Homo sapiens: one gene and its partners. The protein of the gene in region 2 purifies or fractionates together with the protein of the main gene of each other region. This does not show direct contact. Each region holds a gene or a part of one and is shown on either strand. Other genes may lie near its edges. The genes, in order: PRMT8, TIGD7 and UACA.

What was found.
Region 1: the proteins of TIGD7 (region 2) and PRMT8 purify together in Homo sapiens (affinity purification with mass spectrometry; 2 studies listed by BioGRID and IntAct, with this or other methods). This does not show direct contact.
Region 3: the proteins of TIGD7 (region 2) and UACA purify together in Homo sapiens (affinity purification with mass spectrometry; 3 studies listed by BioGRID and IntAct, with this or other methods). This does not show direct contact.

Annotation. Positions count from the first base shown.
Region 1 is NC_000012.12:3,561,023-3,572,740, forward strand, and holds part of PRMT8 (protein arginine N-methyltransferase 8), read left to right. Parts: intron 1-7,683; coding exon 7,684-7,826; intron 7,827-8,411; coding exon of another isoform or gene 8,412-8,454; coding exon 8,455-8,542; intron 8,543-11,718. UniProt on the Homo sapiens protein: S-adenosyl-L-methionine-dependent and membrane-associated arginine methyltransferase that can both catalyze the formation of omega-N monomethylarginine (MMA) and asymmetrical dimethylarginine (aDMA) in proteins such as NIFK, myelin basic protein, histone H4, H2A and H2A/H2B dimer.
Region 2 is NC_000016.10:3,295,433-3,304,273, forward strand, and holds the end of TIGD7 (tigger transposable element-derived protein 7), read right to left. Parts: intron 6,578-8,841; 5' UTR 5,183-6,577; coding exon 3,533-5,182; 3' UTR 3,376-3,532; downstream 1-3,375. Other genes in the region: ZNF263 (zinc finger protein 263), read left to right, coding at 3,674-3,678.
Region 3 is NC_000015.10:70,750,841-70,762,558, forward strand, and holds part of UACA (uveal autoantigen with coiled-coil domains and ankyrin repeats), read right to left. Parts: intron 1-11,718. UniProt on the Homo sapiens protein: Regulates APAF1 expression and plays an important role in the regulation of stress-induced apoptosis. Promotes apoptosis by regulating three pathways, apoptosome up-regulation, LGALS3/galectin-3 down-regulation and NF-kappa-B inactivation.

The DNA of each region.
Region 1 (11,718 bases), on a different chromosome or scaffold from region 2:
CTTATATAAGTGCTCTGACAGTAATCCTCTGTGCTTTGCAACCACCCAGTCCTGGGATGATTCTCCTGGTGGGGATTCCACAAGTGCTACACATCCCCAGTTCCTTCCTCTTTTGCTTAGGAGGGCAGTGGTTGGAACATTCTCCTCTGGCCATGTTTTAGCAGCTCTTTCACCAACAGAGGGTCGTGCTAAGAATTAAACACAGCCAGTCAATGGGAGGGGCCCAGATGCTGCACTTGTGGCAATGCACCTCCAGTTTCTGCCTGCCAGCGGTTGTGGAAAACACCATGTCACACTGTTCCTAGCTGGAGACCAAATACAATCTGTTGTCTATTCACATACTGCTGCCAAGCGATACCTCCTAACCTATATCTGGTTGGTGGATGTTTTGAATCAATCCAAACCAAGAGTCACATGTTTTTATTCATATTCAACACCAAGTTGTTAGAGTTGGTCTTCTATCACAAATGACTAAGACGCCCTGCAGATGATCACTCTCCTGGGGTCACTGCTCCCGGTTTGTGATGGGTGTCCTACGGTGAGGGTGGAAGCTCCTACAGGCTGCTCTACATTAGGCTCTTAACCAGCTCCTTGGAATAGGGTCATGCAGCCAAGTCATGAATCCACACAGTACTTTGTCATCTTCTCCCTTAGGATGCCATGGCGGTGGGGCCTTGTAAACGTCCTTGTTGAAGTCCCACATGATATACTGCAAGCATGGGCTCTGGAATCAGACTTTCTGGCTCACACCCAGCTCTGCCAGAATTAGGCTGTGCTCTTGGATGACTTAGTTTATGTGCCTTAGTTTCCTCATCTATGAGACAGGAATTAGTGGTCATACATTCCAGGGCCATTGTGGGGATCGCATAGTTGCTGTTTGTATAACTGTGGCACTCTGGAGTCAGCACCTTACAGGATCCTGAGAGCTGACTGTGAAAGTTTCAGTAAATTTGCAGAATGGATGCCATCATTGGCCATGGTGGAAGTATCTATACCACAGAATTCAGCAAAGGCGACAAACCAGGGCTTCTATCTCCTGGAGAGCCGGTTGTTAAGTATCTCCAGCACACCACTGTATAAAACACAACAGCATCCGGTGGGCACTAAGCAACCAATAAACATTAGCGGTTGTTATGATTATTCCGTTTATTAACTTGACTAATAACCATATCAAAAAAAGAAATGAGACCAATCATATGTAATTATTTTTAATGAGCCTGTAGTAGTGACTGCTGGCAACTGCTACTTCCTTCCCTAACAGCTCGAGAAACAACCCATTAATAATCTTCAAAGTGAGTTTCATGTATTCATCCTTTCGAGTATTATTGAGCCACGTACTAGGTCCTGTGTCGGGCATAGGGGAGTTCGTGGTGTGACTAGCACAGACAACATCTTTGCTCTCATAAAGCTTACAGTCTCGGGGGAAGACAGACATGAAGGCAAGCGAACAAACAAAATCACAACATCATCACAAACTGTGAACGTGCTTAGAAAAAAACAGCATGGAATAATTGAGAAAATGGGGATGTGTTTTTTCCAATTGGGTGGTTGCAGGGGCATGCTGGCTGTCACACACTGCCTGCCAAGAGCCAATTGCGTGCGCTCATCTCTTCTCAACTCTGCCTTGAATGACATCATCTGTGTCGTTAGCTTGAAATTGGCTATGGTGGAAGTATTTACACCACGGACATTGGCGGATGCTACAAACCGGAGCTGTTTTGTTTTCCCTTCTGGAGACCTAAAGGTGAAGATGGGGCCATGCTGAGAGCAGTGGGAAGAGCGTTTTACCTGCCTGTATACATTCCCTCAGGTGGGAGATACTTTCTGTCCCATGGAAGCTTCTGCTGCAGGGAGAGAGTGAAACCATTCCAGATAGAGAAACTTGGAATGGTTTTCTGAATACCTGAGCCCTGGGGAAGCTTTGGTTGCCCTTTACATTCCCATTGATTTCAACCACTCTACCCAGTACCAGTGCCTTCTTGATAACCCCTGCTCCCCTTTGGCCAAGCCCACATGATCATCTGCTTGTGGCCATGGTGCTGGGTATCTGCCAGGCTGGACCACAGGTGGGGTTCTAAGTGGTGGGTGATGATCTCGGGTGGGAAGAGTCCTGGTATTGTTCTGATTCACTGAGTACTCCAGCCACTGCCTAAGGGAGGAGAGAAACCAGGCAGGGTCTCTGGCCAGGGAATGGCTCTGGCAAAGCTAGCAGGGCTTTAGAGCTCCAGCCAAGCACGTTGGGCCCTGAGCCCTCAAGAGAGCCAGAGCGGGCTAGAACATGAAGCCAAGCAGATTACACAGTGAGGACAAAGCAGACCCTCGAGTCCTATGTTCTCGGGTGAGTGGGGGATTTGGGCAGGGAGAGGGGTACTATATTGTGGAAGCGACCACCCTGAGGCTTCATGACACCGGGGGCTCCCTTATGCCACTGCAGCAATAGGGTCAGTTTGCTGCAGGACATAGTCCCAGTCCCACCATTCATGGAGGGTAGAGATATCGACATCCTTTTTCCCATCACTCCTGACCAGCCGCAGGAGAAGGGTAGGTTAGTCCTTTGCCTTCTCTGATTTCTTTTCTCTCAACATCCCAAGCAGTTGCTCCATGTCCACAAGAATCCCAGGTGGTAGGGAGGTCAGATATACACCCATTTGCCGGGTGAGGAAAGGAACCACGGAGAGGCACAAACATGCACAACAGGCCTAGGTTCAGCCCCCACAACTTGACTTCTCTAAACTCCAGTTCACTCCTTAGGCAAAAATAATAATAAAACCAAGCACACAAGTTCCTAGGAGGATTACTGAAGTAACATACGGAAAATCACTCTGCAAGCTGCTATTCAAATGCTAGTAATTTTTTACTGTCACAATTAGGACTAGTTTGAATATCTTTTGTCTCTTAACCCAATGCCCCCCACCTTTTTTCCTTCAACATTGCTCATTCATCCATCCATTCATTGAGTAATGATTCTGAATGTTTGTGAGGAGTCAAATGCTCCGCTATATCCTGGAAATAGGAAGCTAAAATAGACAACGAAGAGAAGGAATGCATACGCTGGAGGTGAGCCGGGCCCTCCGCAGGTGCAAGGCAGCCAGCATGGGTGTCACCAAAATAGGTGTATGAGCAAGGACCAAGGGAGTGGGGAGGGCGAGCGAAGGGCTTTGCTGCAGTGGGGTTGGCAGGGGGGTCAGGGGGCTTCATAGGCTCATAATATGTTCCCATGCCTGTGACCCTCATGCCTCCTCTTGTGTGGCACAGGACCTGCTCTCTGAAAGAGTGAGGACCTAAAAATGATCACTAACTTCAGATCCTACGGGCATCAGCTGACCCTGATGGATGCACTGGAGGCTCAAATGAGGTTGAGCTGGCCTGATTTGTTTAAAAACAAAAATGACCATTAATGAGAATGACTAGATTTCTGTAAGAACCACTCAAACCAAAAAGAAAAAATTCCACTCAAAACCATTTTTAAAAATCTGGATGTCTCACTTACAAACTTGAAGCTACAGGAGAAGTTTTCCCAATTTAGAGTCTATTGCTCCCTGCTGTGCATTTAGTTCTGATTAATCATTCTGTAATTTACCAGCCAGAGTCCTGTCATAGTTCGTTGAACAAACTTTCCATCATCCTTCTGGAATAAAAACATGGATCCGGACGGTGACCTCAGTGCAACCTTGAGTTGATGCAGTTTTAGTGACTTGGGGTCCAGATTGGGCATGGAGCTCTGCAGCCTACGGCTGCTCGGAATCTTAATATCAATAGCTTAGACCCCCTTGAAAATCCTTTGCATGGAGGAGAAGGGAAGACTGCTGCTGTGTGTGCCCACACACTTCCTTGAGCCAGCCTAATGCCCTATGTTGGCCAATAGCCCCTAGTAAGTTGGCATATGCCCCACCATGACAGGTAGCATTTTGTAGATTGGAAAATTGAATCTGGAAGTTTAAGTGGTTGCTGGTGGTGACTACAGACTGCAGGAAGAATATTCATGGTGATTCAGCTGGACAGTTGTATTTGGCTGCACAGAAAGAATGTGACCTCTTAAAAATAAAAAATAAAAGGACCCAGGAAGTGTTGAAAATGACAGTCAAACTGGAACTTGGAGGCACCATCTTTTTTTATTGATGCCAGCTGTCTCCACCAGTGAATCTTGCAGAATGCCTTACACATAACAAGTGCTCAGTACACATTTGAAGAACCGCAGCTTTCTGGCACTGCAAAGAATTTCAGATTCAACCTCCCTTCTTTTTTTTTTTCCTAATGAGGAAAATAAAAGAGAGGAGATGTTTGATTGAGATTAGCTGTCACCTGGAACAAGAGCGTAAGTTGCTGCCTTTTAGGATTCCAGCATAAAGTTGTGCAGGTTGAGCACAAAAGCACCGGAGAAAGGGGATAAATGGAGTCTAAAAGCCAGTCCAGCACTGGATTGAAGGGAGATGGGTCCTTTTCCTTTGACAAAGGGCTCATCTCCTCACCAAGCCAACTGTGGGGCCATGTCCACACTGAGAAATGTCTGCACTTGAATAGATGTAGAAGGGTGATGTTAAGAGAACAGAAGTCCAGACTGTTGAGGATTTTATAGGGTTAACTGATTCCTTCTGCCTTTTTGCAAGCAGAGATTGTGATTTTTGCTATTCTGTGACCCCCTATATCTAGCTATCATCTATCTGTCTTCTATATCGTCTGTCTATCTATCAATCATCTCTTGTAATCCATATTGATGAGGTTACAGCAACTAATTGATAAGAGGGCTAACACAGAGAACATGAGCAGCAGTAACTCTCTTTGGGGGACACCTGAGGAATATTTCATACATACCTGTTTGTTAGACTTGATGATGGATTACTCCTTGTCTGTTTCCTGCAGCTCCTAATAGAGTCCTGTCCACAAAAATTGTCATGGGTGGAGCCTTGTACTAAACACTCAGGGTAGAGGTCATGAGGCCCCGGAGGCAGGAGAAAACATCTTCTAGGGCTACAGAGAGGTCATGATATAAATGCAGGAGGAGGAACTGACCCATAGCCACACAGACACAGGCAGACATTAGGGAAGAACCTTCAAGAAACGTGCAAAGAAAAAAAAGTAAGGGAGGCCATTAAAGACAATTTTTAAGTTTACAAAACTAAGGCAAGCCAGGCTTTGCATGCAAATGATTAGGCAGGTGAGTCATGCATATATTTGTCAGTTCTCTTTCAAAATAAGAAATAAATTAGGCACAATGTTTGCATTTTAAAAAATCCTTTACTTTGCCACTCTATGAATTTTCTTAGTGCACCCTGGGCCCTGCTCTCAGTTGAGTTCCTGCCCTGGGGTCTCTGAGACCCAGAGAAACTTCAACACCTACCCCTCCCACTCCCACCAAAACTTTTGGAGAATAGCTCTTCCTGCTCATACTTTTTAATGGTAGGGGCTTTTGAGCAGTAACCAGTCAGGAGGGCCACCCAAGACTGAACCTCACTGTAGAGTGACCAGGGTCAATGCATGTGTACAAAGTGTCTTACTCCTTGTAGAGCAGGCTGTATCCAATTAAAGCTTGATTAAATACCACATAGTGGAGAGTAAACTGTTATTAGAAGCTGCTAATGGACACTCCATCACCTGCATTATTCACTGTGAAGAAACTAAATAAAGCCAGCAAACGGTGTGCTCTTTGCCATCCAGGAGCCTCAGTCCAAATTAATTTTCATGAAACTCAGATTCTAGGCAGATGTGGTTCTTTTGATTTTTACTCCTAAGTACAGGCCATTGTTTGTTTTTCCCAGCAAAGCTCAGGCATTGTGTGAGTTTTTTTCAGAGGATATTGCAGAATGAGAGTTTCAGAGCATGAATATATGTAACCTTTCAAAGGAAATGTTCAGAAAGAACAAACCAACCAATACATCAGCCTGCCAATTTAACAGTGGTATCTAAACTAGCTTGCTCAGATCTTTACAGCAACAAATACAAAAAGGGACTCCAAAATTATGTGTATGTCTATGTCAGTTTATCAAAAACTCAACTAAGAAGTGTCTCCTCCCACAGAGGAAACTGAAGTTCTTGAAGGTGACTCATAAGAAGAAGCCACTGGGGACAGGGGCTTTGACCCTGGCCCTATCTGCTTCCCCTCTCCATCTGTGGATCAACAAGCAGGAATATGTCAGATAATGTCCACCTTCTGTTGAGCTTTAGCTATGGGCCTGGCACTCCACATGTGTTATTTCATTTGATCAATACAATCACCCTCTAAATTGATATTGCTTTTCATGGTTGTTCACTTGGGAATTGGAGTTTAGTTAGGTCAAGTAACTTGTCTAAAGTCGTACAGCTAATGGTGAGAAGATCTGGCACTTAAACCTAGGTTTCCCTGACTGCAGAGCCCATGCTCTCATCAAAATATCAATTTCCTCCCTCACAAACACTAGAAGGGCACCCATTTGGTATTGAGCCTGGCTGTGAACAAATGCAAAAGCAATAGAGGAGGCATCTATGCTTTCTTTGAGTTTGAATTGTCATGGTAACCTAACATAGGGGTGGGGGCCTTGAGAAGAGTTTTAGAGTCATGTCATATCAGATCTGGGCTCTGTTTCCACTGCTGCTACTCAACCTCTCTAAGCCTCGGTTTCCTTAGTTGTAAACAAAAATAACAGTTGACCCCGACTACCACAGGGGTTAGGGGTGCCAATCCCCCACACAGTTGAAAATCCAAGCATAATTTTTGACTCCCACAAAAGTAAGCTACTATCAGCCTACTGTTGACCAGCAGTCTTGCTGATAACTTGGTCAATTAACACACATTGGCTGGCTGTGGTGGCTCATGCCTGTAATCCCAGCACTTTGGGAGGCCGAGGCGGGTAGATCACCTGAGGTCAGGAGTTTGAGACCACTCTGGCCAACATGGTGAAACCCCGTCTCTACTAAAAATACAAAATTAGCCGGGCGTGGTGGCACATGCCTGTAATCCCAGCTACTTGGAGGCTGAGGCAGGAGAATCGCTTGAACCTGGGAGGCGGAGGTTGTGGTGAGCAGAGATCACGCCACTGCACTCCAGCCTGGGCAACAAGAGTGAAACTCCGTCTCAAAAAAAAAAAAAAAATTAACACATATCTGGTATATGTATTATATACTATATTCTTACCATAAAGTAATCCAGAGAAAAGGAAATTGTTAAGAAAATCCTAAGGAAGAGGAAATATATTTACCACTCACTGAGTGGAGTGGATCAGCATGAAGGTCTCTGTCCTCATTGCCTTCACATGGAATAGGCTGAGGAGGAGGGAGAGGAAGGGCTGGCCTTGCTGTCTCAGGGGTGGCTGGAAGAGGTGGAAGGGGAGGCAGGCACACTTGGTGTAAATAAAAAAAAAAAATCTGCGTGTTCGTGGACCTGTGCAGTTCAAAGCCAGGTTGTTAAGGGTCAGTTGTAATGTGCTTACCTCACAGGGCTGTTGGAAGGATGACGTGATACCACGCATATAACGGGCTTAGCGCTATGCCAGGCACATAGTAATGGCTCAATTTATTTTACAGGGAAAACATGCAGGTAGTTTTCAATTATGTTGGTATAAACTAGTTTGGTAAAGGGTGAGCTACATCATATCCTAAAAGTAGAATCAGAATAGGGCTGAAACCTGGAGATCTGGCCCTGAAGTGAGGTGCTTGTGGTTCCTGGGTGGGGTCCCTGCAAAGTATGGCCCTGGGGTTCTTATTTTCCAGTCATCACCATATTTAAGGGTAAAGTGGAAGAGGTGGAGCTGCCTGTGGAGAAGGTGGACATCATCATCAGCGAGTGGATGGGCTACTGTCTGTTCTATGAGTCCATGCTCAACACGGTGATCTTTGCCAGGGACAAGTGGCTGGTAAGTGTCCTGCATGCTGTCCCCGCGTTGGCCGGCTGGCTGTCCTGCTCCTCTACCCAAGGCCTGCAGCCTAGGAGGCATACGAAGACTTCAGAGAAGACTGAGGCCAGGAGGTCACTGCCCCAAGCCCCTCTCTCTAGAGCAGATCTGTATCAGGGAACAGAATGGTTGCCCCGGGTCCAGCATGTGTAACCATCAGAGTGGACTTCCGTGGGTCTCACCGCAGCCTCTTTTGCAATAACAGACATCCGTTCTCTCTTGTCGAGTTAAAGGTCCGTTTCGGTCAGCAAGTACTTAGGACTTGCATGGCTGCCAGAGCCAGGTGTGCTATTCATCTGGGCTTCTCCAGGCCAAAGTCGTAACATCTCTCACTGCTCCTCACTGGATTTACCTTCACCTCACCTCATTTGTCCTATTGACTCCACCTAGGTCCCTTAAATTTTCCTTGCTCCAAAATAAAAATTGAGCACTGCTGTCCTAGCCCTCACCCCAGACAAGGTGACAGTCCACTGCATGAGAGATGGTGGCAAGGGGGTGCTTGTCTGGTGACTCTATGTGCAGTTCAAAATGTGATGTCTTTGTCAGGTGAATAGATTACGAGACCCATTTCCCCACAATTCATCAACAGAAACCTGGAGGGCTTATGTTTCCAGACCGGGCAGCTTTGTACGTGGTAGCGATTGAAGACAGACAGTACAAGGACTTCAAAATCCACTGTAAGTCCCCTCTTGCTTCTCCGGTGGACTTCCACTGCACAATTGGGGTGGGAGGCACTCCAGTGGGCCCGAGATGAGCAGGCAGTGACATGAACACCATTGCTGTCCCTGAAGAGGAGCTTATCTGGGACCCTTTCTGGAGTCTGCTCTCTAAATGTTTCTATCTAGTCCCAAGGGTGTTAGGTCTACAGACAGAAAATAAGCCATATGGCTGGGATGAGAGAAATGTCCTGGGGTGAAAGAATGAATGCAATGTGAATTAAAAATTGGACTGAGGCAGCAGAAGCTGAGTTTTTGCAGAGATCAGCAGGGCAAGTGGCTTGAAACCTGTCAAGGTTCAGTTAGCCCAAAAGTCCACCGCAGGGGTCTGAAGTAGCAGGTCTCTTGCCAGGCCAATTGTTTTGAATCCTGCCTCCATTCCATTCAAACTTATCAAAATAATATTGATTCTCTTATGCAAATACATATTATTTGAGGTTCTTTTGAGGAATAGATAGCAGAGGGGGTGGGAAAGAGTGGAGATTTTGCTTTGAACAATCAAACGAAAGGCGAGTGTGCATGTGTGCATGAGGCAGGGGCTCGTATCTAAACATGTATTCTTAATGCCTTATCAGCTAGGCGTGTGTGGTTCTCTGAGAACAATAAAGCCAAAAAACTTCTCCTCCCCCGCAATGTTTTACCTGGTCTGAAAAGGGCTGTTATCCTATTTCTCGTAAAGGGTGACACTTCTCTGTGACACAGGCCTGATCCTTAATGAGATTATACCAAACATGTTTTTGTAAAGTTGAACATGGCTGTGTCTCCTCAACCAGAACCAAATACAACAAAGGAGCAAAGAACCCCTCAAACAGGCAAACACCCAAAAATCCAAATTAAAGCAAGAGGCAGAAGCTCCAACCTATCCATCAGACTGGGCACATCTGCGGTTCCTGCCCCAACAGGGTGGTCCATTCCTACTTGGCAAGATTACTGTGGAGGGGTTCACAGATTGAGTAGAAGAATAAATGCCTCCAAGAGGCTAAGACTCCATCCACAGTTCAACAAATTGTGGCTCTGTGGATTTAAACAATTGCCATCTAATCGTCGTTAGTGGCACTGATGAAAACTCGGCTGGACTCTGCTATGGATGTGTGTATTTGTGTGGGTTCATGCCTTTCTGGAAATATAAACTCAAAGTGTGAAGTTCAGAGCCAGGTTCAGAAGAAGACAAAAGTGGGACAGCTGTTTGAAGCTCTGTGCCCTGGAAACCGTCTCTGGTTGCTGTCTGCCTCCAGCCAATCTGGTGTGATTTCCACTATTTGACCTCCTGGGGGAAGGAGGCAAAATACCAAATGAGGACAGTGAGAGGCAGGGGGGCCCAGGTTAAATGCTTTGCACACTGCCAGCCCTGGGTTTAAATCTTGGCTTTGCCATGTCCTAACTGGGTAACCTTGAGCAAATTATCTAATACCTTTGGGCCTCAGTTAAGGGATAATTTTCTCAATCCCACAGACTTGTCATGAGGATTAAGTGAGATGACATATATTAAAGGACGTGACAGTTCTTGGTCCTATAATGGGACTAGATGGGAACTAGTTTCTGACTGTGTAGCTAAGCCCCTTTCTGCCCCTGGCTCTGGCAAGTGAGCCTGACTGCCAAGCCCCTGGTGGCTCAGAATCTAGGACAGATGTACTCTCATGGAAGATTGCAGACACAACTCCACAGTGAGTGTTGATCAAATGCATGTATAAATAGGACATATTTTGCCCTGGAGCTGCATTTTGGAGTTCTTGCTGTGCAATTGTACTGAATAGTGTTTTGAGGAGGAAAGCTTCTAGGTACATTCTTCATTGTCAAGTTCACTTAGATATTTATTGAGCTCCAACCCGAGGCACACCTCTTTAAGAAACTTTCTCATGGTTTCCACAACAAAGATACCTGTGTCAGGAGCCTTTGCAGGTATGCACATTGCAATGAGCCAGCCTGGGGCAGGGAGGGGCTCCTAAGGCACTGGCCCCAGACTGGAGATCATGTGATTTCTTTGATTCTCATTGCAGTGTTCATACCTTTTGGAAAAGGAAAAAAAAAAATCTGAAAGTTAGCACCATGTTATCTTGTGCTTGTTCTAGAGTCTCTGAAAAATACCCCAACCTCCTCCCCACCCCAAAAGAACACCAAGAAACAGACACTTAAAATGTATTTAAAATACATTTTCTATTTACATTTTTGAAAATAATCTATTTTTTTGTAAAGGAAGCAAACCCACTTAGAAATTCATTTCAAATAAATGGAGACTTTGGTTACTATGAGTTCTAAATCAGAAGTAAAGCACAAAGGTTGCTGGTTGCTAAGGCAACAATTGTAAGCAATTTTCTATTGGCTCAAGAACCAGCTAAGAAGGAAAAATTTTGAAATGAGGCAGGAGAGTGAGACATGTTCAGCCCCTTTCAGAAAGTAAGTTGTTAGAGGGAGAGCTTTCTTTCCTTTCCTCTCCTTTCCTTTTCTTTTATTTCCTTCCCTCTCCTTCCCTTCCCTCCCCTCCTTTCTTCTTCTTTCTCAACCACACACAGCAACATGGGAGTGCAAGAATGAGGTCAGTGCAGAACCTGCCCTCCATTTGCTCACCAATGAATAGAGACCACATAGAGACAGAGATAAATATCTGGCATATACTAGGCTCACAATACATAATTTTAACGAAGGAAGGAAGGAAGGAAGGAAAGTGAACCAGCAGAGGGATGTGCAAGGTGTAGTATTTAACTCTTAGAGAGGAGCAATCATTTTACACACATTTTCTACTATAAAGGAAATACACAGAATTTCAAAAATGGAAGGAAACTCGGTGGATGTTCTATTCAATTTCATGCACAACCCATGAATTGTACCCAGTGCATGAATCTACACCCTGCTGAGAATGAGAGAGATGGGCACCAGTTTCTTGGCTGATGAGAAGACTGAAAGAAAGACCTCATGCAGAGGTGGCAGTGCTTATAGCTTGATGGTTGAAGGGCGGCCCTCTTGGATGGCTCAGCTGCTGTCTGTGGGCTTCACTTCCACTCATGACATCCAGAGTTTCCTCTGGTTCCAGCCCATTTTATGCAAGGATTCCACTTTCTTCATGAGAGCCTAAAATGTGTCAATCTAGTGTAAACACTTTCCCTTCTGCACAGAGGAGAATCTGTAAGTAGCATCTGGTG
Region 2 (8,841 bases):
CCGGTGTATGGTGGTTCTCGCACGCACAGCCGCAGGGGTTTCCTCTCCTAGACTCGAGGCGGTGGCGCACCTGCACCCTCTAAAACTCCCCCGTCGGCCCTCGCGGTCTAGCGGGAGGCGCGGAGGGCCGAGCTGGGGTGCGTGCGAGCGGGCGCCAGGAAAGCGCGGGGCCGCCCTAGGGGCTAGGCCTTTCTTTAAACAGTGGGAGGCCCACGAAGTGTCTGAAGCCCGAGGCTCCCCTTTTTGTTTTAGTTCGCTCTCTTCTGGTAAGAGAATAAGGGTCGGGCAAGAATGGAGAGGGGACAGAAAAGGAAGGCAGGGCAACTGAAGAGGCAGAGTCAACGCAGAAGGCGAAGGGAGCCTGGACCAGGGCAGGGCAGTGAGGACGAAGAGTGGAGAGGAGAGATCCAGGAGGTGGAGCGGTCAAGACTTACGTGGGCCGAGACCCGTCTAAAATCTCGTAGGATGTCCCCCAGGGACACTAGCCTTGACCTGTCTTTCCTGCTCTTCTCCGCCAGAGGCCCCCAAGGCAACGGTCCAGGGACCTTGCAGCTTGCCTGGGAGATACACGTGCCCACCGCAGAGACTGAGCCCCTGCTTCACAACTTTAAACCCAGCTCAAAAGTCACGCACTGTCCTCTCAGACACCTCCCCTGCTATCCAAGTCTCAAAGGCCCTCCCTATGCTCACTTTGGCTCCGGCCCTTACACATCCCATGGTGGTTTGTTCTCATTCATTTTCTTGGTTATTCAGAGCTGAATCTCCAACAACATGCTATTGTCTAGTACATGAAACAGTTAACAGGAAGTTTCCAGAATCAATGAGTACTTTTGAAAACTGGGGTGACTCTCGGTCACTCTAGGAATTTATTATCACTAAAAAGAATGATGATGTTTGATGCAAAGACCCAAACTAAAAGGAACTAGAGAGCTGCCCAGAGTCCTCATCTGCCATCCCCCTCCACTTCCACAATCCATCCTGTCCCAGGCTTGGAAGGTCTTTCAAAAGAGGCAAAACATCAAGCAAAGAGTAATTACTACCTTCGCCCTCACCCAACCCCAGCTTGCAGTCATTATGGACTAATCTTAAAAAAAGAAAAAGTCAAGCTGCTTGATGTTAAAGGTCTCCCATCTTCCACCAGGCTGCAGACTGAATAAGGCAAGAAAGCACAAATCAAGCCTAAACTGAATGTAAAAAGGATGCCCAGTGGCAATGTTGATATATTTTTTCTACAAGTTCTGGGTAATAAATAAGGCACAAAAAAGATAACTACTGAATTTACAAGGTGAAAATATCAGCAATCACTACTAATAAAAAAGGAACCCACTTACAGCAACAACAAACCTACCTAGGAACAATAAAAAAAATGAGAACTCCATTAAATGAAAACTGCACTTACAATTTGAAAGGAGAGAAAAGTAATGTAAATTCTTTCCAATTTTACTTAAATTAGGAATAAATTCGCAGAGGGAGTTGGTGTCTGGAGGAGGCTTGAATAAATTTTATGCTGAAGTTGACTTAAGATAGTAAGAATAGCTTGTATATTTTCAAACATGGAAAGTGGGCATTTGCTTTTCATTAAAATTCACAGGCCGGGCGCAGTGGCTCACACCCGTAATCGCAGCACTTTGGGAGGCTGAGGCAGGCGGATCACGAGGTCAGGAGTTCAAGACCAACCTGAGAAACATGGTGAAACCTCGTCTCTACTAAAAATACAAGTCAGGTGTGGTGGCACGCGCCTGTAATCCCAGCTACTCAGGAGGCTGAGGCAGAATTGCTTGAACCTGGGAGGTGGAGGTTGCAGCGAGCCAAGATCGTGCCACTGCACTCCAGCTTGGGTGATACAGCGAGACTCCATCTCAAAAAAAAAAAAAAAAAGAGAAATTCATATTAGCCAGTAATGAAAATGGCAAGGTACTAGAGCAAGAGTGGACCCCAGTAGTTCTGTATTTAGTCACTAATTTTATACTATAATTGCCTAGTATTCACCAGTGTAACAGAATACCCATCTCAGAAACAGATTCTTTTTTTTTTTTTTTTTTTTTTTTTTGAGACGGAGTCTCGCTCTGTCGCCCAGGCTGGAGTGCAGTGGCGCGATCTCGGCTCACTGCAAGCTCCGCCTCCCAGGTTCACGCCATTTTCCTGTCTCAGCCTCCCGAGTAGCTGGGACTACAGGCGCCTGCCACTGCGCCCGGCTAATTTTTTGTATTTTTAGTAGAAACGGGGTTTCACCATGTTAGCCAAGATGGTCTCGATCTCCTGACCTCGTGATCTGCCCTCCTCGGCCTCCCAAAGTGCTGGGATTACAGCCGTGAGCCACCGCGCCCGGCCAGAAACAGATTCTTGAAGATAATATATGAGAAAGGAAACACTGAAAGCCAATAAGAGCTAATTATCCAAACAAAGCTTGTTATTTGCAAATATCAACTCACCTGACACCTTATATTAAATAGGGAACAACCATAAAGATACCATTCTTTTGGTTACAAAATTAGCAAAAACTAAGAGCTTAACAATATTCAATGTTGGGATTGGTGCATTGGGAGAAGTACTTTCAAAATAATGGTGGGAATGTGAAAGCAATTTAACAGCGTGTATCGCAGCTTTTTCAAAAGTTCATTCTATTTGACCTGGTAGTTCAACTGATACGTTACATCCCCTGGTGGAGTATTAAAAAACCATCAAATGTGAGGTTAAGAGATTTTAATGACCTAAGGGAAACTCTCAGAAATAGTGCCGTATGATGGTTAAAAGCCTGAGCTTTGGCATTAAACAGAATTTAAGTCTCACCTCTGCTGTTTACCAGTTTATGTGACCTTTGTCGAGTTACTTAATCTCTCTAAATCTGTTTCCTTATGTATTTGAAAAGGGAAGTCATTATTATGAAGACTAACATATATATACGATCCTATATACTCAATAAATGCTAACGTATTAGTAACAAACCATAAAATATGTTAAGACAGTAAGAGATAAGGTTTTATTTACAATGTAATCTGCCTATTTAAAAAATATATGGTATACACCGAAGTGTTGAGGTTATCATTAGTCAATAGAATTGAGTGCTTTTTATCTTTTTTTATATATTCCCTATAATCAGCATGTTACTTTCACAGTAAGAGGAAAACAAACACTAAATAGGTAGTAACAGAGTTAAGAAAGCAGAGTGTGTTTTACCATTAAATTGAAAACCTAATTTATCCTTATCTTAAAGCTAACTAGAACTAGTCAGCACAGTTTCTTTGTTATACGATATGATTACAAACTAATGCTTTTCGCAAAGGCATTCCACCTTAGATAATCTGGGACAATACTTCATTATTCAGATCCTTGTGTAAAATTTAAAAAAATGAATTTATGAAACACAAATTTAAATAAATTTAAAGAAACACAAATGTATTATTTTCAAACTGTAAATTTTATAACCATTATATAAATGGGCACTGATATACAAAATAATGTCAGTTGCTAAAACAAGACAATTCACAGCTGGCCTACATCATATAATGGCAGAAATCTTTAAACACAAAATCTAATGATTAGAACCAGAAGTTGAAGGCCCACTGAAGGAGTCCTTAATATTATGAGGCCTAGGTTTCAAAAAGCTACCAATTCTAGAATGGATTTTACTCTGGAACTGTTTCTTGACTATTTCTTGTTGCATCTCTTTCAGTGTGAAGTGGAATCTCTGAAACTCAGGTGTGGCATCAACAAAGTCAAGAAGGTAGTCCAAACTCTCTCTTACAGCAGATAATTTAAATTCAGCAGTCTGCTTCTCAGCTTCTCCTCCTTTTTGAACAACTTCCTTTGTTATTCCACCTTTGGTTTTTAGGAGACAACCCTTTTCTTCATCTCCATTTAACCACACCCTATCATCATCCAACTTAGTTTCCAACTCCCCACATTTTTCAAGAATTTCTCTATAATCCCCATGTTCTAAGCCTTGAAAATCATATTCAGGTTCCTTTTTGTAAAGAAGATTTTCCCATGCATTTGCTATGGTTATTTGTTTTACTTCTTCCCAACTTTTTGCCCAGTTAAAAATTGCACTTTTTATATTGTAGATTTTAATTTTGGAAACTCCTTTATCTCCTTTCTCTTGCTCATCATCACTTTCTTCAAATATTACAAGACTCTCTTCAAGTTGCTTCCATCTATACAGCCGTTTGCAGCTCAAGATCACACCTTGATTCATTGGTTGAATCAAGGTTGAAGTGTTATGGGGGAAGAACATACATTTTATTCGACCATCCTCACTGGTTAGGGATTCAGAGGAAGGATGAGCCGGGCAACTGTCCAGAAGTAACAATGCCCTGACGTCCTCGTCATGAAATCTTAGAACATTAAGTTGAAAATGTCGGACCTCAGGAACAAAGTTTTGAAAAAACCATTCTGAAAACAATTCTCTGGTGAACCAAACATCTTTACTGGGTTTATATATCACAGGCAATGTACTTGTGTCCTCTTTCACACTTTTGGGCAGTTTTGATTTTCCAATAATGATTGACTTTAATTTATGAGTTCCGTCTGCATTTGCACATAAAAAGGCAGACAACCTTTCTTTGTTTATTTTCTTCCCTGGTAGGCAGATATCTTTCCTACTTGCCTGAGAATTTTCTGGCATTGACTTCCAAAAGAGGTCTGTTTCATCCCCACTGTATAGCTGAGCTAGACACAGTTTCTCCTCTTTGATTATCATGGACAGTTTTTGTCGAAATGGCTCAACATTTTCAGAAACTGAACTTAGGACTTGTTCCCCACATCCTTTTCGGTTCCCAATTGCATGCCGATTTCGAAATCTAAAAAGCCAACCAGTGCTAGCTTTGAAATCTGTTCGCCCAAAACACCGTGCAAATCTCTCTGCAGCAGCCTGAAGCTCCACGCCTCTTACCGGAACACCGGCTGAGCGTTTCTGTTGGTACCACATGTAGACCGCATCATCTACATCACCATATTTGGCTCCCGTTGTCCTCTTTCTCTTCTCAGCCCCTACTAATGGCATGTCCTGCTTCAGTACAAAGTCCAGAATTAACTTCTTATTTTTTTTAATGTCATAAAATGTTGACTTACTGATTCCAAATTCATCCATTACACTTTTAAGTGATCGTCCAGCTTCAATTCTACTTAGAACCTTCATTTTCTCCTCCAAATTCAGTGTTGTATATTTCCCTCTCTTATTCATACTGAATTTAACTCTGAACCACCAACAGGAGAAAACAAAGGGAAAAGCCTTAATGAATTGGCAAAAAAAAAACCCACATTTTTTAAACAAAACTTAGCTGAAAGCCCCAGAAGGCATGGGCATTGTATTGGAGGATAATGGACTGAAGGGGCTAACCATGACTGAAGAGCTAGTCTAGAGGTGGAGGTCTTATGCACTCAGAAAGCTGCCAGTTGCAAAGTCCTGTCTGGCTCTTGCTCCTGCAAGCCATGAGTGATCATTTTTCAGAATGCCCCCTACCTCTCCTCTCTTTTGACAGATACAACAGCCTCAGTCAGGAATGACAGGAATACCTGCATACTTTCCCTAACTCAATACCGGAAAACGGACAATATGAAGAGAGGAGGGATGGAGCAAGATGTGCCCACAAGACAGGTGTGATAAGTTTCCATAAAAACTGATGCTTCAGAAGAAGGGAGCGTGAAAGACTCAAAGGCAATGACAGAGTAATCTTGTGTGTAGCAGAGATGCAATGTGGCTTCTCCCCTTCCAAAAAGACCTGATTTTACCTCACTGCCAGAAAAGAGAATGGTGCTCAAATTGCTTTGTACATAGTGTTCACTGGGCAGCAGTTCATCTACCTGGATAAGGGCTCCGAGCTACAGGGACCCTGACATTGGGATGTATGGAGAGTTGGAATTCAGGAACAGTTGTACCGAATCTTGAAGTGAAGAAGAAAGTAGTTTGTTGTACATATGAATGAAATCCAACTTTTATTGCATTCAATATAGTATTGTCAAGCACCGTGCTTTAACTTGAATGTCTCTTGTGTTTGCCAAGGTAATATGTAAGTATGTAAATAATTTATTTGTCAGTGGCACTTTACCATTCTCAGATCTTCTTTCTTGGGAACATCTGATTTATTCTCAAGTGCTATTTTTCACTGAAACTGTTCTCTATTTGAGATATTATCAAGTTTCAGAATCACAGCAATTCTCAGAGATGAGCCCAAAAGTTTTACAAATATTTCACCATAGTTAAAAATTTTTAAAGATCTGTCCTTTCATTTGTTTTCCTAAATTTACACTATAAGTAACATACTTTTTATATTTGAGATTTTGATTTCTCTTCAGTGTTTATTTTACTTAATTTGAACCAAGACTCAACTTTTCCACAGAAGAAATCTAAAAGGTTTCTCTGCTGCTGTTTCTGATCAATTGTTTCTCATAAATCCTACTGGCAAACTCTTCTGTCCCTCTAGGCCCTCAAATACTCTTTTCGGGTCCTCCTGGTGCTCCCCAAAGCCATTCCAGGTCCTTAGAAATGTCTTAGTCTAGATTAATTTCCTGGTTCTCAGTCCAGATACACAACCTCATGGGAAGAAACAAAAACTGCCACTTTTATCCATTCCAGGTGCTACGAAGAAAGAAAAGTATGTCAGAGAAATAAGGGAAATGGCTGGTATCTCAGTTATTCTTCCTCTTCTTTAGGGCAGAATCTGACTGGCCCATTCATTCCTCAACTACATAGAATTCTCTCTCTTTTTTTTTTTGAGACAGAGTCTTGCTCTGTCACCCAGGCTGGAGTGCGATGCCGCCATCTCGGCTCACTACAACCTCTGCCTCCCGGGTTCAAGCAATTCTCCTGCCTCAGCTTCCTGAGTAGCTGGGACTACAGGTGTGTGCCACCACACCCGGCTAATTTTTGTATTTTTTTGGTAAAGAGGATTTCACTATGTTGGCCAGGCTGGTCTCGAACTTCTGAACTCATGATCCGCCCGCCTCAGCCTCCCAAAGTGCTGGGATTACAGGCGTGAGCCACCACACCTGGCCCATAGAATTCTCTTAGGTCTCTCATCTAAAAACCCAGAAGAGTCAGACCACTGGTTTTCCTGTAACATTCATTGCAAGAAATGCCAACTATGAGTTATAGAGCATGGAGAAGATTACAAGAGAATATGGTAGTAATTAGGGGGTGGAGCCAATGGCAGGCTACGATCAAGCAACTTTCTAAATGAGGCAACTATAATTAAGGCAGTTAGTAAGTGATAACTCAGACATAAATCTTGGTTTATCTCTTTCACTTATAAATAGAAAAATAAAAAAGTATTTGCTAGCCAATAGCAGCACCATTAACTCAAGCTAGTCACCTAGCAAAAATATTCAGGCCACTATGACAGTTGTGTAGGTGTCTCAGAATTAATGTATTTGCTTTCAATGCTTCTCAGCTGTGCCGTCGTCTTTTTTTTTTTTTTTTTTTTTTGAGATGGGGTCTGGTTCTGTCGCCCAGGCTGGAGTGCAGTGACACAATCTCGGCTCACTGCAACCTCTGCCTCCAGGGTTCAGGCCATTCTCGTGCCTCAGCCTCCTAAGTAGCTGGGATTACAGGCACGCACCACCATGCCCCGCTAATTTTTATATTTTTAGTACAGACAAGGTTTTGCCATGTTGGCCAGGCTGGTCTCGAACTCCTGACCTCAAGTGATCCACCCACCTAGGCCTCCCAAAGTGCTGGGATTACAGGTGTAAGCCACTGCGCCCAGCCACAGTCATCATTTCTAAAACAGTGCCCAAGCAAGGGGAGGTGAAACCAAAAGGAAAGGCTCAAGGAATGTTTGTGGGCTTCAAAGGATAAGCCACTATGGCAGCAAACCTCACACAATGAAAATCACCAGTGCCTCTTATTCACTATTCACAATTTGTGCCTTGCTGCCTCTTTTTCCCATGAATCCCTTTTCCCTTTAACCAACTTCCTGTGTTATGAATCAGGCCTGTCAATGATATCCAAGGGCACTGCTTAGCACTGCTAGCAGAACTTCACTTATTCAACTTAATAAATTCTAATTATATATTCAGCATTGGGCCAGGTGATGAGAATCTTAATGCTGATGGCGCTACTGTCCACTGGTTCTGATAGACTGAGAATATTTACTGCTGAAGAAATGAAGTCCCAACCTGGCTGAGATTTTAAGGAAATGAACCTACTTAGACACAAATTCAAGTGACTTAGGCAGATGCTCATTATTAAATCTGTTTATCTTTCTCTCTCACTTAAAAAGGATCAAGATCTATGCCTAAGAGGAGTTACATACCATCCCATCCAAAAGCAAAAATAGCATAATGGCCTGGTAATGGCCTCTCATCTTCATTCTCACCTTAAACTTACCTTAGATGAACTGCCATAGAAAGCAGCTCAGTCCAAAACGCTCAAATGGTGCTCCAGGATTTACTTTTTTGTATTGTTTTGTTTTGTTTTTTGCGACGGAGTCTCGCTCTGTCGCCCAGGCTGGAATGCAGTGGCGTGAACTCGGCTCACTGCAAGCTCCGCCTCCCGGGTTCACGCCATTCTCCTGCCTCAGCCTCCCGAGTAGCTGGGACTACAGGCGCCCACCACCACGCCCGGCTAATTTTTTTTTGTATTTTTTAGTAGAGACGGGGTTTCACCATGTTAGCCAGGATGGTCTCGATCTCCTGACCTCATGATCCGCCCGCCTCGGCCTCCCAAAGTGCTGGGATTACAGGCGTAAGCCACCGCGCCCGGCCAGGATTTACTTTCTTAAATGCACTCTTTTCATTCCCATTCAAAGGACTCCAGTATAAGTGCCACATAAACTCGTTTTCTAACTTTTAAAACTCTTCCTCTAAATGCAGCCCAACTCAGTAAAAACGTACCTAAGATCT
Region 3 (11,718 bases), on a different chromosome or scaffold from region 2:
GGTCACCCTGCAGATTGGTGTCTCAGGAGCTAGAGAAGAGTAGGTGGAAAGCAGTTGCTTAATGGATACAGAATTTTCTTCTAGAGTGATGAAAATGTTTTGGAAGTACGTAGAGATGGTGGTTATACAACAATGTGAATGTATTAAATGTCATTGAATCGTTCACTTTAATATGACTTATTTTATGTTTTGACAATCTCATCTCAATTTTTAAAAGACAGCAGCAGCAGCAGCTTATCCTACAAAAAAAACCCTCAATGACTCCCCACTCTTCTGCCCCAGACTAGATCAGTACCTTGTACAGTCCTCTATCACAGCACTTATTACCTTATATTATCTGCTCATGGAGCTCCCCCACAAAACTATGAGCCTCTTCTTATCTTCCTCATCCTCTCACCCTGCAGTGCTTAGCCCAAGTGCTCAATAAATTTTTTTCATAATTGAAAAATAGAGATACCACTTATCTCCCTCAGGAAAAGGGCTAAAGCAGGTGGACTTTTGAAGATCTAGGCTATATAAAAGCCTATTAATTGGAAAGGAAAAGATTAGGAAGATTGCTGTCAATCTGGTTATAAAGGACAACAATGGCATGACCTCTGGTAAGACTTTTCAGTTAGCAATATAAACATGTATTGAGTTACCTATATAAAGCACCGTATTAATATGCAAGCCCTTAATATGCCTTGTATCATTTAATGCTCACAACTACTCTATGAAATAAGTATAACGATTAATCCTATTTTCCAAATGAAGAAACAAACATATTTAAGTAACTTGCCTAAGGTCACAAAGCTGGTTACCAGGAGTGGCAAGGCTCACACCCAAGACGTGCAGGCTGCAGAGTTTGACCCTGTATCATCAATGTGCTAACCTGCACCTTCATGCTGCTCCAGGTATGATTTCAAGAGCTATGAATGGACATTCTCTGGCCCACAATTGTCTTTTCTAAGACTGAGAAACACTTCATTTTCCTTGTTTACCTACTTATACATGGCCATGAATGCTATTTATATTTCATAAAGTGCTTTTTTAAAATATAAAATGTTAATTTTTAAAAAAAAACAAAGAGAAGAATCATTTAAAAAGGATTTGTCATTTAAAAACCTCTAACATGGCCGGGCACAGTGGCTCACGCCTGTGGGAGCCAGCACTTTGGGAGGCCGAGGCGGGCAGATCACCTGAGGTCAGGAGTTCACGACAGGCCTGACCAACATGGAGAAACCCTATCTCTACTAAAAATGCAAAAAATTAGCTGGGTGTGGTGGCGCGTGCCCATAATCCCAGCTACTCGGGAGGCTGAGGCAGGAGAATCGCTTGAACCCGGGAGGCAGAGGTTGCGGCGAGCCAAGATCACGCCATTGCACTCCAGCCTGGGGCAACGAGAGCAAAACTCCATCAAAAAAAAAAAAAAAAAAAAACTTCTCACGTGTAAATCAGGAAGTGTTTGTGGGCTATTCTTATACACAGCTGAAAAGATCAGAGTGTACTGGCTTTACTACAACCACACCCACAGGGCCTCCCCACTGGGACTCATTTTCAAAGTACCTCAACATCTGCACAAAGTAGGCACCCTGCTAATGCGAAAACCATATGAAATAACAGCATGCTGGAAGAAAAGTTAAACACTCCTACTTTTTTAAAAGTGTAGAAAGCATGATGTATTATATGTGTTCTTGTTCTCTCTCCCCTCCCCCCCACCACTTATCTCTCTCTCTCTCTAGAGCTCTCTTGGAATGTCTCTCTCTAGTAAAGAGAAAATGTCACAATCTGGTAAGAAGAAAATTAAACAAGAGTCAATGAGATTTTTTTTTTAAAATGATTTGTGCATCTGCAAGGGAAAACCTTACTACAGAGGTAATATAAAAAACCTTGACAATATATAAATATGGTCAATATTAAAAACGCATCATCTCCTCAAAAGTGTACACAGTTGTAGATACACACACACACACCCCTCCAAATAAAACCAAGGATGACAGTATAATATACTGGGTAAGTATACATGCATACAAAGCAAAATGACAGAAGGGGCAGTGTGACAGTATTAATATCTAACAATGTAGAATTCAAAACAAAAGTTATAATGCAACAAATTAGAGGCTTTTATACGACAAGTTACACTCTACAATGAATATAAAATAGCCAAGAACCTTAATGTATCAATTATCACAAAATTAAATACATGAAACAAAAACTGTTTTAAATATCAGGGAAGGTAACAGAAGCACAGCTATAGTGAGACAGACATTACTCTAAAGCGACGGCTGGCCAAGTAGCAAAAATAAGGACGTATAAAGCTCTTACAGATCAACATGAACAGGGCATCAGCAGAAAAAATGGTCAAAGAAAATGAACAATTCCTAAAACAAGAAATGAACGCAGCCAATAAGCACAGAAATATGTTCACCCTCCCTGGAAATCAAAAACATGGATTAAGCCAAACTATTTTTTTCTATCACATTTAAAAATGTTTTAAATAACAGAATCTATTATTGGAAGGATATCAGGAATGCAACAATTCCACATATCTCTGGAGGGAACACAGATTGGTTTTGGAATTTCCCATAAAATGCCTCCTCTCTCCCCTTCTCCAATTTTTTTGTATATATGGCTTAAGGTGTAAATCCCATAGCATTAAATTTGAAACATCAGTTCACAATGGTAAGGACATGGGTTCCAAAGCCAGGCTACCTAACTCTTCACTTATTAGCTATAGTGTCTTGGGCAGGTAAATTATTTAACTTGCATCTGAAATGATGGCAATAGTACCTACTTCTTAGGGTTGCGGTGAGGATTGAGTTACTAGCACTTAGAACAATGCCTGGGAAATACATGCTCAATAAATCTTGGCTATCAGCACATGGATTTCTCACAAGCAGTTTCTTTCTAAGTAACTCACTAGCATTTACTGAGTACTTCTAATTGGGACATTTGTATGTGCTCAAATAATTTCAAATTACTTATAATTTTTTTTGTTGCTGTTGAGACAGAGCCTCGCTCCATCGCCCAGGCTGGAGTGCAGTGGCGCGATCTCGGCTCAATGCAAATTCCGCCTCCCAGGTTCACGCCATTGTCCTGCCTCAGCCTCCCGAGTAGCTGAGACTACAGGTGCCCACCACCATGCCTGGCTAATTTTTGTATTTTTAGTGGAGACAGGGTTTCATCATGTTGCCCAGGCTGGTTTCGAACTCCTGACCTCAAGTGATCCGCCCACCTCGGCCTTCCAAAGTGTTGGGATTACAGGCGTGAGCCACTACGCCCAGCCTATATTTGGTTTTCTACAATGAACATGTATGACTTTTGTGGGACAGTCATTTATCCTAACTGGTTGAGACATTCACCTGCGCTCTCTCAAGGATACCTGGCCAGGTCCCATTCAATTACAGACAGTCCCCAACTTATGATGGTTAGACTTAGGATTTTTTGACTTTACAACAGTACAAAAGCTACATGCATTCAGCAGAAACTGTATGTACTTTGAGTACCCGTACAACTATTCTGTTTTTTCACTTTCAATAGAGTATTCGGTATTGAATTCATGAGATATTCAATACTTTCTTATAAAATAGGCTTTGTGTTAGATGATTTTGCCCAACTGGAGGCTAAGTGTTCTGAGCATGTTTAAAGAAGGTTAGGCTAAGCTATGATGTTGTGTAGGTTAGGTGTCTTAAATGCATTTCGACTTACAATATTTTCAACTTAAACTGGGTTTACCAAGACATAACCCCATAATAAGTCAAGGAGCATCTGTATAAAAATACAACTCATCGATCCTTTGCCAGTGCCTTTGGTCACTCAGCTACATCAGTTCATCTTCTGCATATCATCTTGGAGACTGTATCATTTGAAAATAAGTCAATGTCAACAATATTTAGGATTTCTGACAATAAAACAAAGCCAACAGACAAAACTGTTTGTGTGACTACAAACAATCCAATTTATTCTTGTGTTTTGGGGCTACATTTTTAAGCCTGGAAGAGACATTATCTTTTCTAATGATATAAAAGCTATATAAAGCTTTTAATTGTATTATGATTAAGGAAAATAAGGCAATGAGTATTATATCCTATTGTTCCATTTATAATTTCAGGCAGCACATTTCAACCATCCATTTTTAGGCAAATTCCCCACAGAAATCAATTTGACTTCCTTTGCATAAATAAGCACGTGCAGGTGGAAATTTCAATAATATGCTGTATCCTTTAGGTGGCAGGACAAACATTTGCAAAACTGTAACAGGACAGTAAAAGTTTCCATATGATAGTGATGAAACAATACATGTTATAACGTTCAAATCTATTATTCTTGGATCTAGTTTACCAAAGATACAAACATAAGTTAAACAGGGCTGATAAAATCAAAATTTTGCTGGCTATTAGCTAATTCTAGAGAGGAAGGGAGAAGCAGAAAGATGAACTTATAAACTCACTAATAGGATAATTTCTGAAGATGAAACTTTCATGACTAGTCAGTTCTCTCTGAACAGTGATCTAAACTTGTCAAGTAATTTAAATTTTAATTCAAGGTTTAAAAAAAAAAAAGAATGAGGCCGGGGGCAGTGGCTCACGCCTATAATCTCAACAATTAGGGAGGCCGAGGTGGGTGGATCGCCCGAGGTCAGGAGTACAAGACCAGCCTGGCAAACATGGTGAAACCCCATCTCTACTAAAAACACAAAACTTAGCCAGGCATGGTGACAGGAGCCTGTAGTACCAGCTACTCGGGAGGCTGAGGCAAGAGAATCTCTTGAACCCGAGAGGCAGAGGTTGCAGTGGGCCAAGATTGCGCCACTGCACTCCAGCCTGAGCGACAAGAGGGAGACTTATTCTCAAAAATAAAAAAAAAAAAGAATGAATGAAAACCTTCCTTTACCACAATCCCCAAGCTGCACGCCCTCTAACTCCCTATTTTCAATAGAATTCTTATTTGAAGATTTGTCTATGCCTCATCTGTGCCATCCTCTACCATAAAACCAGAATTAGTTTCCAAATCTGATGCTCCCTCAGCTGTATAATTTCACAGCTCCATACCACTGCATTTGCTCTTCTTTTGCTTGGAAAGCCACTGAAATTGTCTTTCTGGCCCAAGCTCACACTCTACCTTTCAACCTTTTTATGGGCTCACTCTACACTCTATGTGCCCCCACAGCAATTTATACCGACTTCTATAATAACTGTTAACATGCCATATTCATTTATTTTTTATATCTAGCTCTTAAAATTCTTGAAGGCTGTGACTAGCTCTTTCTAATTACAGTACAGAAATTTTAGGACATACGCTAAATACAACAGTATCACAAAAGTGAATAAGCATCATGAACCACCCAGCCGCAATTTTTTTTTTTTTGATGGAGTCTTGCTCTGTTGCCCAGGCTGGAGTGCAATGGCATGATCTCAGCTCACTGCAACCTCCGCCTCCCAGGTTCAAGCAATTCTCCTGCCTCAGCCTCCCTAGTAGCTGAGACTACAAATGACCATGCCCAGCTAATTTTTGTACTTTTAGTAGAGACAAGGTTTTACCATGTTGGCCAGGCTGGTCTCGAACTCCTGACCTCAAGCGATCTGCCCACCTCGGCCTCCCAAAGTGCTGAGATTACAGGCATGAGCCACTGTACCCAGCCCCAAATGCAGTTACTAACTCAAGACCAATCCTATTGCAACTATACCCCCAACTTACTATCCCCACCCACCCAAAGATTATTTTGAAGGAAATCCCAGACTCCAAAATATTTCTTTGAAAGATAAAGACTCAGCTGGGCGAGGTGGCTCATGCCTGTAATCCCAGCACGTTGGGAGGCCAAGGCAGGTGGATCACCTGAGGTCAGGAGTTCAACACCAGCCTGGCCAACATGGCAAAACCCTGTCTCTACCAAAAATACAAAAATTAGCCAGGCATGGTGGCGGGCAGCTGTAATCCCAACTACTCGGTAGGCTGAGCCAGGAGAATCACTTGAACCCGGGAGGCGGAGGTTGCAGTGAGCAGAGATCACACCACTGCACTCCAGCTGGGGCAACAGAGTGAGACTTCATCTCCAAAAAATAAAATGAAGGATAAAGACTCTTTATAAACACAGCCACATTACTACCACTGTCACATTTAAATGTTTCAAATAATTCGATATCATCAAGTATCCAGCTGATGATTATATTTCCTCGATTGTTTCATAAACTTTTACTTTTTACAAGTAGTTAATCAGGATCTAAATAAAGTCCATCACGGCAATTGGCTAGTATGCATTTTAATCTCTTAAATCTCTTGTAATCCATAGGTTTCTCCTCTTTTTCCTTTTCTTACAATTTATAATTTTTAAGAAACCATTTCATTTTTCCATAGATTTCCACAATCAGAATTTTGCTGATTGCATCCCTATCTTCCTTTGTTCCCTGTATGACAATAATCAAAATTATTGTATGACAATAAACAAAATCATGGTTATAGCTAAAGGGTGATTATTTTGGCAAGACTATTAATAGGTGGTAATAAGTATTTCCACCACAAGATATATTATGCCAGCTTGTCTTTCTTTTTGAGACATTAGTAGCCTCTGACAATCATGTCTATAGACTCTAGATTCATTAATTCATTAGGAGCTGTAAAGTTATGATATACTAACTCTATCACCCCTTCTTCATATATTAGCTGGGACAGAATACATGATATACTAATTACATCATCCCTTCTTCATCTATTAGTGGCAGTAAAGTATAACTAAAACAGACACTTCCTCTTATCAGCTATTTGGCTACCTTGAGATACAGTTCTCACAGGAAATGCACAATAAATGTTTTATTATTTCCCTTTATTTTCCTGATCTTGAAAGAATGCATCACTTTCCTAGCATCCTCCAAAAGTCAAGAGTTGTTTTTATTCTTTTGGTCATCATTACAAACTCATGGATTTAAGGATTTCAGTGCACTACAGTTGCTATTCTTACTGATGATCAAACTGTCCCATCTTTGGGCAACTGAGAGCCTCTTGGAGTTGGCTCCAGAGTCCTAATCTTTGACAGCCTCTTTACACTCCAGCATGACAAGGGCACTCCAAGTTCATCCTCCACACTTTCTGCTTTCAACTTGGAATTATCCATTTCTTCGAAGAGGACCTAATTAATCCATTATTGAGCCTATGTGTTCCATAAATGTTTTCCAAACTAAATAAGGCAACTGCTGAGCAAAGTCTACTTCCTGAACTAATCATTTTTAATTTGAACAATGCATATGATGTACCATAAGTATATATAATCATTACACCATCCTTATTAAAAAACTAATTAAAATCCTTTACTCATCACCTAAAGTTCCTGGACTCATTATGCACCAAAAGACCCACCAAACCACTCTGCTTTGGTATTACAATAAAATTCAGCAATTCAAATCAACATAATGTTCTGAATAAACTTGCTGCAGGGTGAGGGTTGAAATCAAAAACTATAAAAGAAGGGTTTCTTTATTGTAATCCTCCTTCAAGAAGCACAAGAAATTCAACGCAGGGATAACCATAGGAAGTTGTCTGAATACAGCTTTAATTAAGGTAAGCATTTTTAATTTAAGGTTGGAATAGTTAATGACAATGAGTAAACAGTGCTTAAGTATCATGAGTTTAAACTAAACATAACAATTTGTTATCTTATTTACATTACCCAAAAGTCGCTGTTATGAGAATAACATTAAGATCTTTTCAAATGCACCCAAATCCCTCAGTGGAAAACACAAAGCCCTCATTCTCAAAATCAACAACTAAAACAAAATCATGTTTAATCCTTTATGCTTTCTAAACATCTCAAACTAATGTTATTAGTGGAAACAGAAAATGTTTTTGAAGATTTTTTTCAGTTGCTATATTTGTAACTCTAAATTCTTTTAGAAATACCAGTATTTTTTCGCAGTGCTGAGGCATTATAGCAAGATGCTTTAAAACATATTTAGTTCTGATTTATAAAATTCACTGCCCCATTTTAAGAGCAGCCTAGAGAAAGGGCAGCAAAAATAATCACTACAGAACCTCTCAGGTCAGAGATTACTTCTACAATCAAAGTACTCTGCTACGACTTTGTTTGTTTGTTTTTGGAGACAGGGTTTCCCTCTATCACCCAGGCTGGAGTCACAGTTCACTGCAGCCTTGACCTCCTGGGCCCAAGTGATCCCCTCACCTCAGCCTCCCAGGCAGCTAGGACCACAGGCATGCACCATCACGTCGGGCTAATCTTGTATTTTTTGTGGAGATAGGATTTCACCACGTTGCCCAGGCGGGTCTCGAACTCCTGGGCTCAAGCAATCCAATTTAAAGTGGAATCCCCTTCTAAAATGTCTGCTTACAATATCTGTTTGCAGCACTTCTACTACTTCTGGAATTACAGTCCCTTAATTTATATTAAATTTCCTAAACTAGGTGAAAATGGAACAAGCATATTCTCACTATACATATAACTGAACACACAATTAACCAGATCTGGTACAGTATTTATAGTCATCTAATTATCCCTTTTAGAAATCCGAAGCTCCAACTTAGTAAGTGATTAAAAATAAATGTAACAGGCTGGGCACGGTGGCTGATGCTTGTAATCCCAGCACTTTGGGAGGCCAAGGTGGGCGGATCACCTGAGGTCAGAAGTTTGAGAACAGCCTGGCCAATGTGGTGAAACCACCTCTCTACTAAAAATACAAAATGAGCCGGGCATGGTGGCAAATGCCTGTAATCCCAGCTACTTGGGAGGCTGAGGCAGGAGAATTGCTTGAACCTGGGAGGCGGAGGTTGCAGTGAGCCGAGATCACGTCATTGCACTGCAGCCTGGGCAACAAGAGTGAAACTCCATCTCGAAAAATAAATAAATAAATAATAAATGTAACAATAAAAACACTCTTCATTTATGGTTAACAGATGCAGCCATCTCCAGATTTGCTAGTAAAGGACTAATCCACAAATGTAGTTTATCCAGAATTTGTAATTGTGAACTACATTTATATGTGTACAAACATTCCCATTTAGTAAACTCTAAATTCATTGGCATATTTATAACAATAGTACTATTCAGAATATTCAAAATTACTACTTTTGCCCATAATCTGCACATAATTCTAATTTAGCATGCTAAGCTAATATGCTGTATTCCACATATTATGTAATAAAATACTGCATATGTCACATACCTCAGTCTACTGCTGTGTCTTCTTCAGATAATAAGCTTAAATACACAAAGGAAATTATTTATGAAATAAACATTTTAAAATTTTATCTCAAATCAAAGTTGTGCAAAGTAAATAGTGACTATTTCCAAAATAATTAAATGAACAGTTTAAGACCCAAATTAAGTACCCATAGAGGAAAGAGAAGAAAGTAAGATGTACTTTAACACCATAATAAGTATCTTATGTATCAAAGACTTAAATGTAAAAAAAGAAAAAAAACTAGAAGAAAGTTGGGGAGGGGGGTTGTTTAATATTAAATATCGCAGAGTGGAAAGGCCAAGATATTACATAAACCTAAAAATCATAAAAGGTTATAAATTCAATTGTATAAAAATAACCACCTTCTCTGCACAGCAAATGCCACCATAAAAATGTCTTAAGACAAACAGCCAATTAAGAAATAATATTATTCAAATGAAAAGGGCTAATTTCCCTGATATAAAGTATATACAAATGAATAGGGAAAAATATCGACAACCCAATAGAAAAATGGAAAGGACAGGCCAGGCGCAGTGGCTCACGCCTGTAATCCCAGCACTTTGGGAGGCCGAGGCGGGTGGATCACAAGGTCAAGAGATTGAGACCATCCTGGACAACATGGTGAAACCCTGTCTCTACTAAAAATACAAAAATTAGCCTGGCGTGGTGGTGCACGCCTGTAGTCCCAGCTACTCAGGAGGCTGAGGCAGGAGAATCACTTGAACCTGGGAGGCGGAGGTTGCAATGAGCCAAGATGGTCCCATTGCACTCCAGCCTGGCGACCGAGCGAGACTCCGTCTCAAAAAAAAAAAAAAAACAGAAAAAGAAAAATGGAAAGGATAAACTGTTCTTACCTATCAGGCTAGCAAAGGTCAAAAACTTTGAACAGACTTCTATTAAAAGCTTGGAAAACATTTCTCATATGCTGGTTCCATGATGCATGAAAGGAAACTTGACAACATCCTTCAAAATTACAAATGCACATATCCTTTAACCCAGCAATTCACTTTTAGGAATTAATCCTACAGGTACAGACACACACTTGAAATATGAATATTAATCACAGAATTGTACATTACAGCAAAAGATATGAATGGGGAGCCTCTATTTACAGTTTTAAAAAAAAAAGTCCAAGATATGAAACAGCAGCTACAGTGTGCTAGCATTTCTATAAAGGGTGACTATATTCATATTTGCTTGTATATGCTAAGCTCTCTCTGGAGGAACATGCAAGCAACTGTATCATCAGTGGCCTCAGGAAGTGGGGGCAGGGTGGCTGAAGCAGGGGTTAGGGAAACACGGTGTCGATATTTTGTTGTAAATATTTTTATTCCTTTCCAATATTAAACCATGTGCTATATTACCTATTCAAAAAATAACTGTTTTTAAAGGCAAAAAGAAAAAAAAAAAGGGTGGCCCAATCATACAATAAATACATATACATGTGACCAAATCTGGGATTATGGTTTATAGATTGAAAAGCAGAAAGGGTCTATTTCTCCTGTACATGTGTTTTATTCTATCAATGCTTGGTTTGGTTTTATTCATCACTACAGTTTTATTTTAAAATTTTACAGAATTCATTCTAAGTTTTATTCCTCATTACGCTTTTATTTTTAAATTGTACAGAACTTATTCTAATATTTAAACAGAAATGTTTGCTTTTTCTACATAAATAGGTTAATATCATGTTTATCTTTATTATGTCATTTTGAGAAAAATAGAACGCTCAATTGAGTGCTAAAGATTTAAGCTCAGAGATATGCACTTTATGTTCCAAATGTATAAAATGCAAACTATCATGCTGATAATACCTACTAAATACTCTGCATTTCTAGAAAACTGGATAAAATTAAGGCATATAAACCTCCAAGTGGGATTTACATCCTTAGTGCAAATCAAACACAACCAGGGAAAACAAAGCTAATAAATCTAGAAACTTGTATCTTCTATAAGGCTAAAAACACAACTTGCATTACAGAAGTAGAATCTTAACTGTAATGAACTCCAATATCACTAAATGACATTTCTGCCAGTTACTTTTTTTAAAAAAAAAAGTGAAACAAAGTAATCTCTGTTTTCCATGAGCTTATAAAACGACTTCATGCTTTATCAAAGAACATCAATTACGTCATCTGAATCTACTCTCTTTTTTTGAAATAGGAATTTAAGTCTAGGTAGTTCCTCCACAATTTCCTTTATGTCCAAGTAAAATAATCCTCGATATAGGTGGAGAGAAAGGCATAACTGAATTAACTCAAAAAAGCAGAAGCAGATTAATTAGTATTCTGATAAAAAGAATATAATCATTTGGTAAAATCTGCGTTGAATTGTAAAGGTTCATTTTAATTACCCCAACTAGGTAACTGTGCAGTTGGAGCATAACAACTCCTTTACGTTCGACTCTTCCAAGACTTTGTAAGTGGCACTTATTTTAATGATATAGAATTTTGATGATATCGCCATTCTTGTAACGTGACAAATTATCTAAATCACAACATCTGCGGTCAGGCTGTTTCTCAAGATTTCTGTTCTCCTGCCAACTAAAGAGGCC